Regions from separate parts of the Homo sapiens genome. Here region 2 is linked to region 1. The links come from fine-mapping of genetic effects on gene expression. Tissue or cell type: whole blood. Region 1 holds a variant in brackets; the other region holds the start of a gene. All regions are shown on one strand. Distances are between the middles of the regions.

Region 1 (8,331 bases):
GGGTGTTCCAGAAGATTGTTGTCATAGCAAATGACAGCTCCATGCATGCTATTTTCCCTGAAGACCATGCAGTGGGACAAGCTGTGCAGATGGAAGACAGTGACATCGATGACCCTGACCTCCCTGTGTAGGCCTAGGCTAATGTGTTGTGTGTGTCATTTTTAACAAAAAAGTTAAAAAGTAAAAAATATTTTAAAATGTTAAAAATAGAGACTTACAGAATAAGGATATAAAGAAGGAAATATTTTTGTTCAGCTGTACAATGTACTTGTGTTTTAAATTAAGTGTTACAAGAGTCAAAGTTTTAAAAAATCAGTTTATAAAGTAAAATTAGTTAGCTAATGTTAATTTATTATTGAAGAAAGAAAAATATTTTTAACACATTTAGTGTGGCCATAGTGTACAGTGTTTATAAAGTCTACAGTAGTGTACAATAATGTCCTAAGCCTCACATTCACTCACCATTCACTCACTGGCTCACCCAGAGCAACTTCCAGTACTGCAGGCTCCATTCATGGTAAGTGCCCTATACAGGTGTATCATTTTTTTATCTTTTATACCATATTTTTACTGTACCTTTTCTATGTTGAGATATACACATACTTAGCATTGTGTTACAGTTGCCTACGGCATTCAGCACAGTAACATGCTGTACAGGTTTGTAGCCTGGGAGCAGTAGGCCAGACCACACAGCCTAGGTGTGTAGCAGGCTCTACTGTCTAGGTTTGTGCAAGCACACTGTGATGTTTGCACAGCCACAAAACCGCCTAATGATGCATTTCTCAAAACACATCCGTGTCATTAAGCGACGCATGACTGTATTTAAAAGTATAATGTGTAGCCAAGAGAAAGATAAATTTCCTTGGAAAACTTAGAGTAATCATACCCATTATCATTATGGCTTTAAAATTTAAATAAAAATTCTAACTTTCAGTGGTGCCTGAGTGTATAATAAGAACAGTGTCTGTTGGTTTCCAGTACTGTTTTATAAAGAAACAGGGCAGTGAGTCATATTGACTGATAGATTTCTTGGCTAAGTATCTCCTTACTAGCAAGAGCATGGACTGTCTGCCCCTCCTGCTGCTTCTGAGCATATGCTTCTTGGGAAATAGAATTGGTAATTGCTTGCAATACAAACTAAAACAAAAAACAATAAAATTTATATTTTGTTTTTCCTCCAGTTTCAGATACAAAAATGTCTTCTCAAGATCAATGCTCCAGTCCTTACATAAGGCCATTTGATTTTGCAAAATGTCTTAGTAAATATTTCAGAAACCCTAGATACTCAGGCTATCTTAAATTTAGGGCTGTGTCCCGCTGAGGAGAAAATATATTAATTTGGAAGTATAATTAACATTTTTGTGTCTTTTGTTTCCCCTCCCTAGCATTACAACACCTCCTTGCTTGCCGCTGCAGCAGCAGCAGTTTCAGATGATCAAGACCTCCTACACTCGTCTCGGTTTTTCCCGTATACCTCCTCACAGATGTTTCTTGATCAGTTAAGTGCAGGAGGCAGTACTTCTCTGCCAACCACCAATGGAAGCAGTAGTGGCAGTAACAGCAGCCTGGTTTCTTCCAACAGCCTAAGGGAAAGCCATAGCCACACCGTCACAAACAGGAGCAGCACGGACACGGCATCCATCTTTGGCATCATACCAGACATTATTTCATTGGACTGATTCCCAGGCCCTGCTGCTCCCATCCCCACCCCAGATCGAATGAACTTGGCAGAAAGAAGAGAACTTTGTGCTCTGTTTTACCTTACTCTGTTTAGAAAAGTATACAAGCGTGTTTTTTTTCCTTTTTTTAGGGAAAAAATTAAAAGAAATGTACAGAGAACAAAACTATATTTTCAGTTTTACTTTTGTATATAAATCTAAGACTGCCTGTGTGATAAAACACTTGTTTAAAAAAAAAAAGGAAAGAAAAGAAAAAAGAAAAACAAGCACCCACAAACCACCTTCAGTTCATTTTTTTCTGGATTCTGAAGATTTTTCATTATTTGTCCTATGGTTTTGGTTTTATTTGACTTCGATGGCATTATTTTATTTGCAATAACAGAAAAGGAATTGCATGTATGAAGTTTTCAATCGTGGGCTTTTCTTTGTTGTGGGGAGGGGGTCGGGGGATAGTTTGATTTCCATTTTCTGAAAACGACAGACTTGGATTCTGTTTGTGTGTGCATATTTTATCCAGCCTTAAGTTATAAAGCTCATCTGTCCCGCTGCATTCCCTGTGTATTTTCAGGACATGGCTCGTGGGTGTGTGTGTTCATTGTGTGCGTCTGTATGTATTTTTCTGTCATCACTGTTCCCTCTCCTCCCGAGTGTGCATTCAGTTAATATAATCAGTTGCTTGCTTCTTTCAAAGTGCTTTGAAGGTCTTGAACTCACGTGTGAGCATCTTTATCAACTATCCCAATTGCATGTTCTCCATCACATATTCTCTTATTTGCTCTGTACCCCCTGAGAATATGTTTTAGAGATATTGGAATAAAGCTGTCTGGGTAAGGAGTAGGCTTAGCCGACCTATGAATAATACACTTTAGTCTAGTTCTTTATTCTAAATCTGGATTGCCAGTATTGTGTATTTAAACCAAGTCTGTGAATACCTGCTTTTTTTGGCCACAGAGTAACAAGTTTTCATGTAAGATCTTCATACCAAAGTAGGAAGTAAAAATAGCTTAGAAAGCTCTGTCAGGTGTTTTGTGCAGCTGACAGAGGTAATGTTACATCACCTAAAAAAGAAAGATACACGGTCAGTTATCCTAAAAATAAATTGTTTGGAAAGTACAATGCACCACATTTTTGTAGAAGTCTACTATTTGATAAACAGTTGAAATTCAAGATGTGTTTGACCCTTAGTCATTTTTACTCTTTGGTTCTGAGTATACCTATTTTCTTAGCGTATCTGCCTTGTTTATCTTTTTCTTCACCTTTTAACAAGTATGACATAGGAAAGTCATTTTTTTTTAGAATTCATGGATCAGTCTGATCTACTCTTATTCATAATGGAACATGTAAATATACTGAAAACTGTTTTTCAGGAGAGAAATATGAGTTGGAGGGAAGGAAAAGTGGTTCTACTAATGTTCCAAAATCCTCATCAGAGAAGGTATGATGTTCTCAGGTGTGGAAAATATTTTTTAGTTGATTGAGAATGCAGGTTTAACAGAAGAGATAAGGGGCATAATGACTGCTGGTTTTCCAGACTGGATTTTCCTACCGCAACTATTAATGTTCTCAGAGTTGATGAGGACCACCTTTGTGTATACACTTGTAGTTTTAAACCTTGCATTGGTAACAAAATGATCAACTTTAATCCAGGTAGAATTCAAGATGGCTGTACTTCAGTTGTATGATAAAATTAATGGTTCTCATGACTTGTGTGGCATCTAAAAATAATGTTTTTATAGCATCTCTCTGCCACTAAATTGTTGACTTGAATTTTGGGAAAAAAAAAAGTTGGTGTTGATATGTATATGTGTGTGTGTATATATGTATTTATAAACAAGTGTGTTTGAGTAACAAGTGAGTTTCATAGTCTTCCCCTACGCATGTGTATTCCACACACAAATGGCTGAGTTATAGTCATAAAACAATTTGCAATAAAAAAAAAACCAAAACAGATTGTCAGTTAACCAGGAAACAGTTAATGTTTTTTAATGAATCTGGCATTATAGTGAGCAAATGTCGTATTAATTTAGGCTAATTTCTAATACTACCATAATTTGTGTCTAAATTTCTGTTGGGGTAGAAATTACTAAAATTGTGGGGAGTTTTTTCTGATTTTTACATTGCTTTAGGAAACATTTTTACTAATTCAGCTGTCTTAGGTAAAATGAATAGTTTTCTTCCTGTTTTTTTATGTGTCATTGTTAGTGGTCTCAGAATTCTGATCAGTAACTTTGTGTATGATGCTGAATTACAAACCGTTTGAATGATCCAGTTGAAAACGTATCCCTCTACTTTCTTCAGTTGTAGAAAAGGTTAATTTCCCTCAGTGTCCCACATTATACCAACCTAAGAGAAGAACAGGTAATAGGGAGAAATAAACATACGGTGGTTTCAGTGGTTTTGGTCATGTGTCCACAGGAGAAACTAACCATTCAGTTGTCTTAATTTTAGTTCGTTCTACCCTGTGAGGAGTTTGTTTCCATCAGTTGTTGACTTTCCAAAATGTTGCATTAAGTAATAGTTGTCACTCTGTTGGTCTCATGGTCAATATCAATCAGACTTTCATGATCTCTACTAATTATTAGTAGAGTCCTGTACTATGTCTGTAACTACTAAGTTTAAAGAAAAGCACATAGTCACTTCATCTCTTTTTTTCTTAGCCTACGCTCACTCCCCAACCCATCCCAACATTGACATGCTATCTGTGGACAAATAGCAGTTCTCAGAATCTAGTCAAGTTGCCATCATCCCCCTTGCCTTGGCCGTTCATAGTAGGTATGCATATGTTTGTTTCT[G/T]TACAGTACTGTGTGTGTGTGTGTGTATATATATATACATCTGTATGCACACATCTTTGATAAAATAGCTATTTGACTAGCAGGGTTAAAGTGGCTTTTAATTACTTCGTGAGTGTTATTGGATACATCTTAAAAAAAAAAAATCTGAACCAGAACCATGCCATACTTGGTTGACTATTTTGAGCATTAAAATTGCTTTACTAATTATTTAGACATGATCACAATTCTGTATCTTTACTGAGGAAAGATTCACGTAAGCTCTGAAAAATCGGATTCTTTGGCAGATTTTCCTTTGAGTCAAGTGTCTGAAATGGAGTGAAAATATATCCTAACTAAATTAATGTGGAAAGAGCATTTTTTTAGACAATTTCAATTTTAAACACATAAAACTTTCAAGATCTTCAGGACTTTTTAAAGCACATTTGAAATTATTTTAGTAAGAATTTTGTTTTATCAATAGATGTTGAATTCTGTTTTTTAATTAAATACAAAGCTTAGATTTCAGAAAGAGAGGGAAAATAGCTGGTGGTCCCAGAGTGTGCTGCTGTTAATTGTTTAACAAAGGGGAAAATGTACATAAACAGATAAAGTTACCATAAATTCCATGAACTTAAATCTGTGATTCATTGCCTTAAAACTTTCTCTCTTAGAATTTCCATACCGCATGCCAAACCAGTAAAATGGCTTTTAAAAATGTATAGTAGACAATGTCAGTTTGTATAAAAGTACCAAGTGAAAATATTTATTACATGCATTGGAAAAAAATTGTTTACCTATTGAATGTTACCTGTTTATGTAGAGCTCTTTAGATGTAATAAAAGAAAAGCCTTCAGTTAATTTGTCTTCTGTAAAATAACACTGCTGGATGTTCAAGGGGACAATCCCTATGAGACAAGTGATAATGGTTTGTGCTTCCAAAGCACCTTTCATCCAGAGATTTCAAAGCATGACAAGTAACTAACTAATTTTCTTGCAGCATGCTTTGAGGTAAGTAATGAATATAGCCATCATTTCCCTTTCTTGTTGAAATATGGCTAACTCTTTAATAAATCACAGCATCTGTTTAGTATCTGCAGTTTGAATGCTAAGAGCACCGTGGCCTTCTTGTAAACAACACTAGGTGCTAGAGAAACCAGCTGGAATTTCAGGAATGAGCTTGAAACCAGGACCAGGAGTAAGGTAACAGCCCTTCCTCGGGTAGAGGTTTGAATCAAACACTTAATAGGATCTTAGACTCTGGACCACTGAATCCCTTAATGAGCAGGGAGTCCGTGAAGAGGAGCCCCAGGTTCTAATGACCATTCCACACCAACTGTGTGTTTTTGGCAAGTTATATTTCAGATTCCTGTTAGGCAAATGAGATTCATAAAACTTGCTTTAAAACCATACTGGGACTATTCAGTGATAAATATAGACATAGAAAAGCTTTGACGGAAAGTACCCTCATTTATTATATCCAGAACTTGCTCTTCCTGTGCCATCTAAATCATTGGTATCTATCTCCCATCTAATCTTTGGTATTCCAGGTTGGCTGTGCAGGATTTACTTCCTAATGTCCATGACTGGAGCTCAAAAGAACTGTGGGCCTAGGACCTTTGAGCTTTGCCTGAAAGTGACAGCAGTTCTCTCGGCGGGGCCAGCATCTAACCGGCCCTCTGGTGGATTTACCATGAAGGTAATGAAGTTTAAGCACCAGGACCCTTCACTTGTTCTGGTCCTAGGAGCAGCCCCAGAAATTCTGCATTTCTGTTTTTGTATTCTTAAGGCAGCCAAATCTCGTAAACCTCAGACCCCACAAAACATCTGCTCCTACACTGTGTGGACCTGGGCTTCCCAGCCAGATGGTCACAACTTCACCTAGTTGGCATTTGGGCCATTTATTTACCCTCACCCCACAAAACTCTTTGGCTCCTAGGAATTCCTCCTCTCCTTGCAGTTATGCTTGGGGAAATGAGAGTCTCCTTCCTCAGGGCCTTGTTTGGGTCTGAAGCCACACAGCATCGTTGAGACAGTTGCACTAACACTACAACTCTTGTTCCCTGCAGTTTTCCCTGTGCCCGGTGCCTAGTGAAAGATTTGTGTCTTGTACATCCTCCCAAAAGACACATCCCATTTGATTTGGTTTTCTTCTACTTTAGCCACTGTGGTACTACTAGACAAAGCCACAGCCCAGAGAACCCACTTTTGATACATACATGGATGCAAATCTTTGTACTTGAAGCCCTGCACCCCTACCTGTGTTGGTGTGGTACTCCAGCCCTTTTAGGACTGTGCTGGCACTACGAATGATCCAGATTTGACAAGTGTATGGCACCTCTGAATCTCTGGCAGCACCAACCTGGCACCTTCTAGCTGTGTAACTCACTCAAAGCCACTCCAGCTGGATGGACTCCCAGAAAGCCTAGTGCTCCTACTACTGTTTTCCAGGGCTGTTGTACCCTGGCCATTGCTGGTTACATCCCCTTATTTCTCTCCGTAAGTCCTGGGGAGGTGGCTTAAGGCAATGACCAGTGTGGGCCACTTGAGCAGACCATCCCGGAACCTCTCTGCCTGTTAACAGAGCCCAGGGAACAGCTCGGAATTCTCACAGCATTGGAAGCCCCCTTCTTGAGCTCTGCAAGGCCAGTCAATTTAGCAGCTCACATCTGGTTTCCTTTGGTGTGGGGTGTAAAGTAGATCGCTCTTCCTGCTCTCAGCTGATGCTGCCTCATTGTAGCATGTGTTTTCACTCTAGTGTTTTCACTCTACACTCTGTGTTTATGAATGAATAGCCTGAGCTATGTCACTATATCTGTTGAGATGGAAATGAGAATTTGTAAATGGGCCTCTGGCACTGCAAGAATTGTTGTCATAAGTGTTACAGCTTTCTGTTCATTGCTGCTTCTCAGCTAGCACTGGCTTCATCTTGGAAAATCTTGGAAATATGGAAGATGGTTCTAGCCCCCAAATACAGAATAAGTCTCTTGGTAGATTGCCCTTAAGTCATCAGCTCAATCCTTCCTCAACAGGCTCCATGAGGTAAGAAGTGGGAATCCAGCTTGTGTGGGGGGGCTTTGAGGAGTGAAATGATTTGCCCAAAGTCACAGTGGGAAGCAGCAGAGCCAGGACTGGAACCCAGGCCAGACTCCAAACCGCAGGCTCCTTCCATGCTTGAAAGGGCCGGACTCACGGTAGTTAATAAAATCAATACAAATCTTTTATTAAAGATCTACTCATACCATGGCTGAAATCATCTATTATTGTTGCTAGTTAGCCTCTCTTCTATAGTTGGGTAATGTTGTCTTGCCACTGTGTTTGCCATCTCTCCCAAGTGAAAAGAACACTTTTTAAAAAAAATTAATTGCTCCAAGTTTTCAGGCCCAGGGGAGGCTCTCCCATTCTCCTCCTTCAATAGTCCCGTCCAGGAAGGGTGATCTTGTGGATAAATTCATCATACTTCACTTTGCCATTGGGTTCGATATCTGCTTCCCTGAAGAGATCATCCACTGCAATAAATCACATTTAATTTTTCAGTTTGGCTTTAGTGTTCCATTATAAAACAGTGAGTTTTTTGGGGACTGGAGCTCCCCTAAGGTCTTCCCTGAGCGTGCAGTTGACTATTCCTGTAGACCAGGAAGTAAACCAGTGAACAGAAAGGGACAACCCATCCCTGCACTCCTGAGACCCTTATTCCATTTTGAGCTAATCGGGCTTTCTGCAGGGGCAGGGAGTAGGGAGGTGTACTGGTAAGGATTCGGTCACTGATGCCACCGTGTGCTTTTTTTTTTTTTTTTTTAAAACAGTTTCGCTCTTGTTGCCCAGGCTGGAGTGCAGTGGCACAATCTCAGCTCACTGCAACCTCCGCCTCCCAGGTTCAAGCG
Region 2 (8,000 bases), 140 kb before region 1:
ACATACCTGAGACTGGGTAATTTATAAAGAAAAGAGGTTTAATTGACTCACAGTTCCACATGACTGGGAATGCCTCAGGAAACTTACAATCATGGTGGAAGGTACCTCTTCACGGGGTGGCAGGAGAGAGAATGGTTGCCGAGCAAAGGGGGAAGCCCCTTATAAAACCATCAGATCTCGTGAGAACTCACTATTACAAGCACAGCATGGCGGAATTCCCTCCCACCCCACTGCCAGTGCTGTTCCTTCATTCATTCATTATCAATTGAATTGATGCCGATTCAATTATATCCACCTAGTCCTGCCCTTGACACTTGGGGATTATTACAATTCAAGGTGACATTTGGTTGGGGACACAGACCCAAACCATATCATATATATATATACGTATATATATATATTCATATATATATACATATATATTCATATATATACATATATATGAATATATATATTCATATATATATTCATATATATGAATATATATATGAATATATATATATATAGCAATGTCATATTTTAAAATGTGCATGGAATCATAGAATGCCAATTTTCAAGTGTTCTCAGCTTTATAGTGAATAAAAGTAGTCACTTCCAGGCAGGCCCAGAAGCCTCAAGATATTAGATATTGCAGGCAAAGTCTGATGTCTGCCTTGGTTTGACTTCCTAACATCAAGAGGTTTTTAAAAGTCCAGATTTGTTGTCACAATTTCCAGCAAAATAAATTTAAAAGAAGCCTATGTGGTTATTCTTGCCGCACTTATGTAAATAATCAGGTCAAGTTTGAAACTAAATTAATTTTAAAAATAAATTGGTCTTACCATGATTATCTTTGGTAGAAATGGGAATGACTGTAGAGAGAAAAATTATGTTTCTGAAGAAAACCATAGTACACCTGTTACTAGATTGCAGCTTTGTTCATTGTTTTTGAGTTTTTATCATCTATCTATAGACTAGCCTGGATCCTGAGTTCTTGTTGCCTTCAATATCTGACTGCAATTCTCCAACCATGAACAAAAACTGCTAAGCTGAACAACTCGATATAAATTTCAAGGGACAAGTCCCATGCTTGATGAGGGAGCCACATAGAGAGTTTAGCAGAACACCTGATGCCACAGCCAGAGACATTTAAACTGCAAACCAGGATGAGAAATTGCTGACATCATGTTGTGGACAGCGTTTTCCAAGACTGTCAGAATAAGACTCGCTACCATGATAAGACTCCTTCCCTTCTTAATTTTTTCTTGCTTATGCCCACCTCTTCCACTTGGCAGGATAATGCTGTAGTTAAAATTTCACAATTAGTAGTTTTTGTGGGTAAGTTGATAAAGGGTCAAACCCAAACATTTACAGGACCCAAGAGAGCTTTTATTCCACCTAGTGGGTAACTTTAGCAACATCCCTAATGCAACTGTTTGTTCAAATTTTACTAGTGGCCTCTTTTGTAGAGTTAGCACTCTTTGCTTTAATTTAACCCATTTCTGAGATGCTAGATGATAGAATTGCTGCGTACTAACCAAACGGGGAAATCTGTGCTGTTGCTGTCACTTCTTGTTGTACATAAATAATCTGGTATTGTAGAGACTCAGTTTCAAAAAGTTAGCAGGCTACTTGGTGAAAACAGGTAGATTTCTCATCTGGCTCATTCTTTGATCTATTTGATTTTAGTTGGTTTGGTTTATGGCAACCCTAGCTAAGAAGCATACTCCGAACTCTTGGCATTGTCCTCCTGATAGTCACAATTCTCAATTATGTTCTCTCAAAAAGTTTTACATATTTGCATACAGCCAATTGTTGAATGTCATATGGTCTCTCTTCAGCTGCAATGACAGAAATACAAAATCATGAGGACACTGTAATCTATAAATGATGTGTTGAGACTGGAAACACAGAATGATGTTAAATGAGGGTAGTGCTAATGCCCTCAGTCTTAGTCACAATTTCACCTAGGTTGTTAAATAAAAATCATGGGATGCCATTGTTTTCAACCAAATTCCTGCATCAGGCCTCCAGATCAGACTAAAAATCAAAATGGTGTCACCCATGTTCACCAAAACAAAACTGAGTTATCTGGTTTTCCAAAAAATGGTAAGAGAGATAGCCAATTTTCCAAACAGAAGTTTCAATCTTTAACAGGCATGATAATGAAATTTCCTGTTTTAATCCTTAAAATAGAATACCTGAAGTAACCCAATGTTAACCAATCAGTTTTCTTTCTACTGTTCTGTCTCCACGTCTCCACCTTAAAGAAAAGTGACTTTGATATAACCAATCTGCTTTTTGTTGTTTCTGCCTTCTTCAGTCTATTTTCTGTCTCTAAAGTTAACATCCTCTGCTTGATTCATTGCAACATTTATTCTATTTTGTGGAATGAAGTTTTGTCCAATTCTAGGAGTGCAATAATGCCAATGAGATCTTGAATCTCAATTTGTTTTACTTTTGTTTCTTGACAATGGAGAGGTTTAGGCTAGAGAGCATTTTCAAAGTCATGAGCATATAGACTTCAAGTCAACCAGTTAGATGAGATCACCTGGTGATAAAATAGAGAAGAATGCAAGGACCGAGCCCTGGAGCAGTCCAACATTTAAAGATTGAGCCAAAGAGGAGAAACCAGCATATCAAAAAGGAGGCCCAGTGAGGGAACAGGACTATCTGTGACGTGTAGGTAAGTTCAGGGGGAAAAGTGTTTCAAATCAAAGGAACCATGTCAATTATTCGCGATTCTACAGAGAGGTCAATTGAGATATGGATAGAGAATTGGCAATTGCCTTTGGAAACAAGATCATTAGTAATCTTGATAAGTGATACAGATGATGGAAGCCAAAGCTCGATCAGGGTAGACTGAGAAGTGAATGTGAAGTGAGAGGTAGGAACAAGCACTATTGGAGAGATCTTGAAAAACCTTTCTAAGAATTTATGAAGATAGCAGAAAAATAGGGCAGTTCCTAGAGGCGATTTTGGAGTCAAAGGAAGTTTATTTTAGATGGGAGAAATTTCAATATATTTATATGCTGATAGGAGCAATTCAATTGAGAGGGAAAAAACTAACGATGCTGGAGGGTAGGTAATTGTAAGAGTAAAATCCTTAGGAATGTGCGTGAAAAAAATCCGGTCACTGGTAAAGGGACTGGCCTTCCTAGGCGCAGGGACACTTCATTCATAGCAACCCAAATGTTACTATGCAGATAAGGGTGGTTTTGATGGTGAGAAGATAAGGGAGTTTATTTCTGATATCTTTCATTTTTTCCATGAGTTATGAGGCAAAGTTGATTAGTAAAAGTGGGGGTTGGGGAGGAGGTATATAGAAGGCTTTCAGTAGAGACGAAAAGGAATGAAATAATCCTTCCATCAAGTCTACTTAAATGTCAATTTAGTGGATAAAACCCTCCCAGAATTAAGTACATCTCCCAAACCCTTTCTCTCTCTCAATGACCTTTTGCTCCTTTCTGGTACTCACTAACATTTGCAATTGTATCTTTGTTCGTTCACTTCTCTGATTCCCCATTAGAGAACTACAGAAGGGCACGGACTTTGATTTCAAAATGTATATTTAGCCGTTAGCACAAGGCAAGCAGATGGTCACTAAATAAATACTTTTTTAAACAAAAATGTTAATGAACACCTTCAAAATTTTGTCTTACGCCACCTCGTTAAAATACTTGTTTGTGCAAGTCACTTTTCCTCTCTGAGCTTTCATTTCTGAATCTATACCATGGGAATTATCTCTTCCTTGCCTACCTCCCCTCGTTATCAAGAGGATCTGAGCCAATAATGATAGAAATGCTTCATTAAGGGCCCCTTAAATGTAATGGATTTCTATTTTTAGCCCACTGGTAGCCTCGCAGGTAGCAGGTGCTGAAAAAGCCTTGCTTATTGGGGGTTGGGGGACAGCATTGTTTCTGTGACCGTAGGCGTCGAAGCTATGCAGAAGCGTTCCGCGGACCGCAGAGAGATGGGGCTCAGGCCAGCATCCCTCTCGCTCCGGCCCTTCCCGGGAGGAGCTGGCCGAGCTAGGATGGGGGGCAGGGAGACCGAGGGGGCAGTAACTGTCAAACCTCGCCGCTTGGCGCCATTATTTAAATGGAACGTGCCTGTCTCGCAGCTGTACGTGCCCGGGGCGGGGCTTCGAGCGCCCTGAGCGGGGCGGAGGCTAGAGGCGGGCTGGGAAGGTGGAGGGGCGGGCCGGGGCGGGGCCAGGCCGGCTAGAGGGGCGGGTCTAGCGGCGGCCCCCGGCGAAGTTCACTGCGCTTGCGCTGACAGACGCAAGATGGCGGACAGTGCGGAACTAAAGGTAAAGCGCAGCTCGAATTCACTTCTAATATTCGGCCGCGGAGACGGCGCCGCTGCTGCCAGGGGGGATGGGTCCGACCCTGGGGGGCCTCTCGGGCCTGACTCCACCCGGGCCTGGAGTTGTAGGGAGAGAGGCGCGCCCGGTCTCAGCAGAGGGGGCCCGCCTGCGGCGGGCCGCGGGCCCCGGGTGCCTCGGGGGCGCTGACGGGTCGTCCCCGGCGTGTTATTGTTGTGGGCGCCTCTGGCGGGGGTGGCGGGGGAAGAGATAGGGAGTCCGGAGGTAGGGGCTGCAGCTGTCTCATGGGCTCGGCTTTTTCACCTTCCAGTTAGCCTCCCTGCCCCCCATGGGGAGCTGGGGCTGGGGGCAGGGTGCTCTCGTAGGGGGGATTGGGAAAGCTCCCCGTGGCCGCTTCCTCTTCCTCCTTTGCAGTCCCGGGCTCCTGTCAGGCGCTCTTCTCAGACCCCCGGGAACTTGGCTTCGGCCGCCCCGCCCCTCCGTGGATCCCAGTAGCCCCCGCCCCGGACTCGGCTTTCCCCGGCTGCTCGCTTGTCAGGAAGCGCCTGGGGTGCCCCGCTTGTGGGAAGCGCGATCCCGGGGCGATAGGGTGGGGATCTGGGGGAGAAGCTCTGGTAAAGTTTAGCGAGCCCCGGGCCGGCGTTGGGGTTCGGCTGAGAGGTAGTGAGCGGGACGTTACTCTTTCTCTCTGATTCCGGGCAGCCGAGGGGAGAAACCCCCTCGAAGAGTGTGTCTTTGGAAGCAGTGTTGGGAGGGGGGGATGCAGCTACCTCTCTCCCTTCTTTTGCCTTAGCTGGTGTGGAGGGTGAGAGGAGCCTTTGGGGGTCTCTGCACACACCATGATGGCGATGCTGTAGCTGATGGAGGTGAATGGTTCGTGTTTATATCCCCCCATTGCCTTTTGTTTGTAGGGACATCTTGCTGGCCATGTTGATTTGAACGAAATTCTCCCCTCATGCTACTCCAACCCCCGATAAATAGAACGTTCCTCTTAACAGTACCAATTACTCACGCCTCACGAAATTAGATGAAAGGGTGCCCCCTTTTCCCCGCTTTTCTCCCACCCCAATCTTTACCTGATGATGGCTTCTTTACCGTAGCAGATATACCACTACACAAGCAGTTGGGGGAGGGGGTGGTGGAACCCTTATGACTGGATTGTGACAAATGGGGCTCCGCTTGAATAATTTTGGTTTAGTAGCAGGCAGTTCTTAACTAACGCGTATTATTTCGAGGCTCTGAACGCGATCTTCTCTGTGGCTTCCTGTGTGTGTGAACCCAGCAGCTGGTTATGTCTCGACCCAGAGAACTGACATCTCTGTCAGAGAGGAGATGGGGATATACAATTGTAAATCTTTGGGGAGAGTCTTCTTTTTATAATAAATAAAAATTATTTAATTTTTTCCCCGTTATAATGAAACGACAACTTCTAGAACAACCAAATGCCAGATTTGATTCTGTAGAGTTTTTCCTGTGGAATATCCTCACCGAAAGAGCTTTTCTCCTAATAACTTCACAATGTTTACACTCCAAGATTCGTATGTTAAGGTATTGGCTTTGAGTGTCATTCTTTTAAAATGTACTTCTAATTACAAATTTACTGAAGGGAGAGCAGATTTACAATGGATGGTTTTGATTTTTCCCCAGTTTCAAACTATTGACTGAAATGAGAAAGCCTTAGGAATTTGAATATTTGGAGATAATTAACCCTTGAAATAAAAAAAAGCACACAACTTTAAGACATGTTTTCTATAATTTTTCTCTTAGAGTCACTATGTTGCTGTGATCTTTGCCTTGTAATATTTATTTTGTTAGGAGTTCTTTTGAATGATAGCTAATCAGTTGTTATACATGGACCATAGAATAAAGCTGAAAAGCATGTGCAGACTATATTGTCACTCTTGATGCTGTCCAAAGAAACTAGTATGGAAAGCACATGCTGAGAGATTTCCTTCTTTGTTCTTTCTCATTTTAAGAAAGTGCCTTTGGGGATAGATCAGATCCCTGGTGTGAGTCTTGTTAGGTAAAGTTTCTCTTTACGAAAATGAACCAGTATCAGATAAACACCAAACACTTGAAGAAATGTTATTTTTCTAAAATTAATCTCGTTTTTTGTGCTCTCCCAAATCTACTAGAGTTTTTCCAGAGGAAGTTTTTTTTTTCTACTCTTATGTTCCTGTTGTATAATTTTTCAAATTATAATAACTGTTTTGACATGTTGGTATGTCATTGTGTGTGTCTGAGACTTTGAGGAGCTGTGTGATAAATTGCTTAGCTGGTGATAGCGGCGTTAAAAAAATTTGGTTAATACTTTATTGTGGTTAGATTTGCTGTTCTTTTTTTGAGGGGTGGAGGAGGTGATCTCAGGAACGCCTACCATAGTTATTTGAGAATGTGTTAAAAAAAAGAGAATGTGTATATATAATTTTCTGTGCAGTAAGGTTTGGCAGATACTCCTTTTGGAAATGATATTTTCTGAAGGCTTTTTGTTTGTGATTTTTTGGAGGTAAATATCATACATTCCTAATATGATAGGAAAAATCAGAGTAAGAAGAAAAAAATCTAGATTTTTTGAAATTTTAAATGGGAATAGAGTACTTCAACTGTGAAGCTTTACATAAAACTCAGTGACTTTTCATTATTTTAGGTTTCAGCCCCATACTTCATTTTGCTGTGGATTGTATTCATAATTATTTTCCTCATGGCTTTTTTAGTGAGTCCTTTTAAATCTATAAGAAATGTGCAAAGATCAGATGGGAAAAACAGATAGATCTTTATCCCCTGTAGGAATTGTGCAAGCTGCAACACTTCAAGATATTGCCAATAAAAATTAGATTGTGAGTCATACATATCAAAATGAATTCTCTATGCACATTTGTTTATGAAAGGTTTAATTTTTCATTAGGGGAGTACCCATAAATGTCATTTTTAAGAATGTGGAGGGTATTTTGTCATCTTTAGGAACTTAGAAGCAGGAGGGTGTGATGGCCAGATGATCTTGGTAGTTAATAAGCTGACAGCTTCATGAAACTCCTCTTAAAGTAATTTAAAAAAAAATATGTGTTTTTTTGGAGTAAAACTCAAACCAAGTTATAGTGCCATTTTAATTTACAGGAAGAAGAGTGGGAGAGAAGAAGTCCATCAGCATTTTAGTGGAGTAAATAATGAAATTAAATGGGAAGAGAAACCATAATTATAAAAGTTACTATGAGTGTGTCAGTGAATTCTATTGTTATTTTCTGCCTCTTTATTTTCAAGAAATAGCTACTTAATTTTGATCCTTACGCTGTAATTTGTCTGCTTTTATTTCAGATAGAGTCAAGTACATCTGATAGTTTATTCATGGATTTGATTTGAATCTCTATAACTTGCTTTTGTCAAGTGCCACATTTAGATGGCTTTTGTTTTATGTCATTATTTTTATCAACAGTATTTTAAAAACTCTACAGTATAGTTTATAAAATACTACGTATAGTTTCTAAGTATTTCATATGATTGTTTTGAAATACCTCCTTCTTTTCATCCACCGTTTTCTCCTGGGCGATCCCATTGTCTTTTTCTTCAAAGAGTTTCTTGTAATCCCTGTTGATTGCGGTAGTGCTTAGTGGCGAGTCCATAGCTGATTAACCTTGGGTGTCTCCTGGTGAACTCCATCAGCATGCTGCTCCAGGGTTCTTGCTGAGGCTTTTGAGTT

What was found. PIP is the estimated chance that this variant, and not a neighbour inherited with it, causes the effect.
Region 2: it holds the start of PIAS1, and the variant in region 1 is fine-mapped to the expression of PIAS1 in whole blood (TOPMed, PIP 0.95).

The regions. Positions count from the first base shown.
Region 1 is chr15:68,186,157-68,194,487 of GRCh38, forward strand. It overlaps PIAS1 (protein inhibitor of activated STAT 1), which reads left to right. Exons shown (of 14, transcript NM_016166.3): 14 at 1,386-7,691. The coding sequence ends at 1,679. It overlaps CALML4 (calmodulin like 4), which reads right to left. Exons shown (of 5, transcript NM_033429.3): 5 at 4,549-7,956. The coding sequence ends at 7,859. It overlaps LOC105370871 (a long non-coding RNA gene), which reads right to left and starts at 1,390. Exons shown (of 2, transcript XR_932396.3): 1 at 1-1,390. The variant G/T (reference allele first, on the strand shown) is at 4,472.
Region 2 is chr15:68,050,060-68,058,059 of GRCh38, forward strand. PIAS1 (protein inhibitor of activated STAT 1) reads left to right here and starts at 4,256. Exons shown (of 14, transcript NM_016166.3): 1 at 4,256-4,291. The coding sequence starts at 4,268. RefSeq lists a silencer at 4,055-4,554.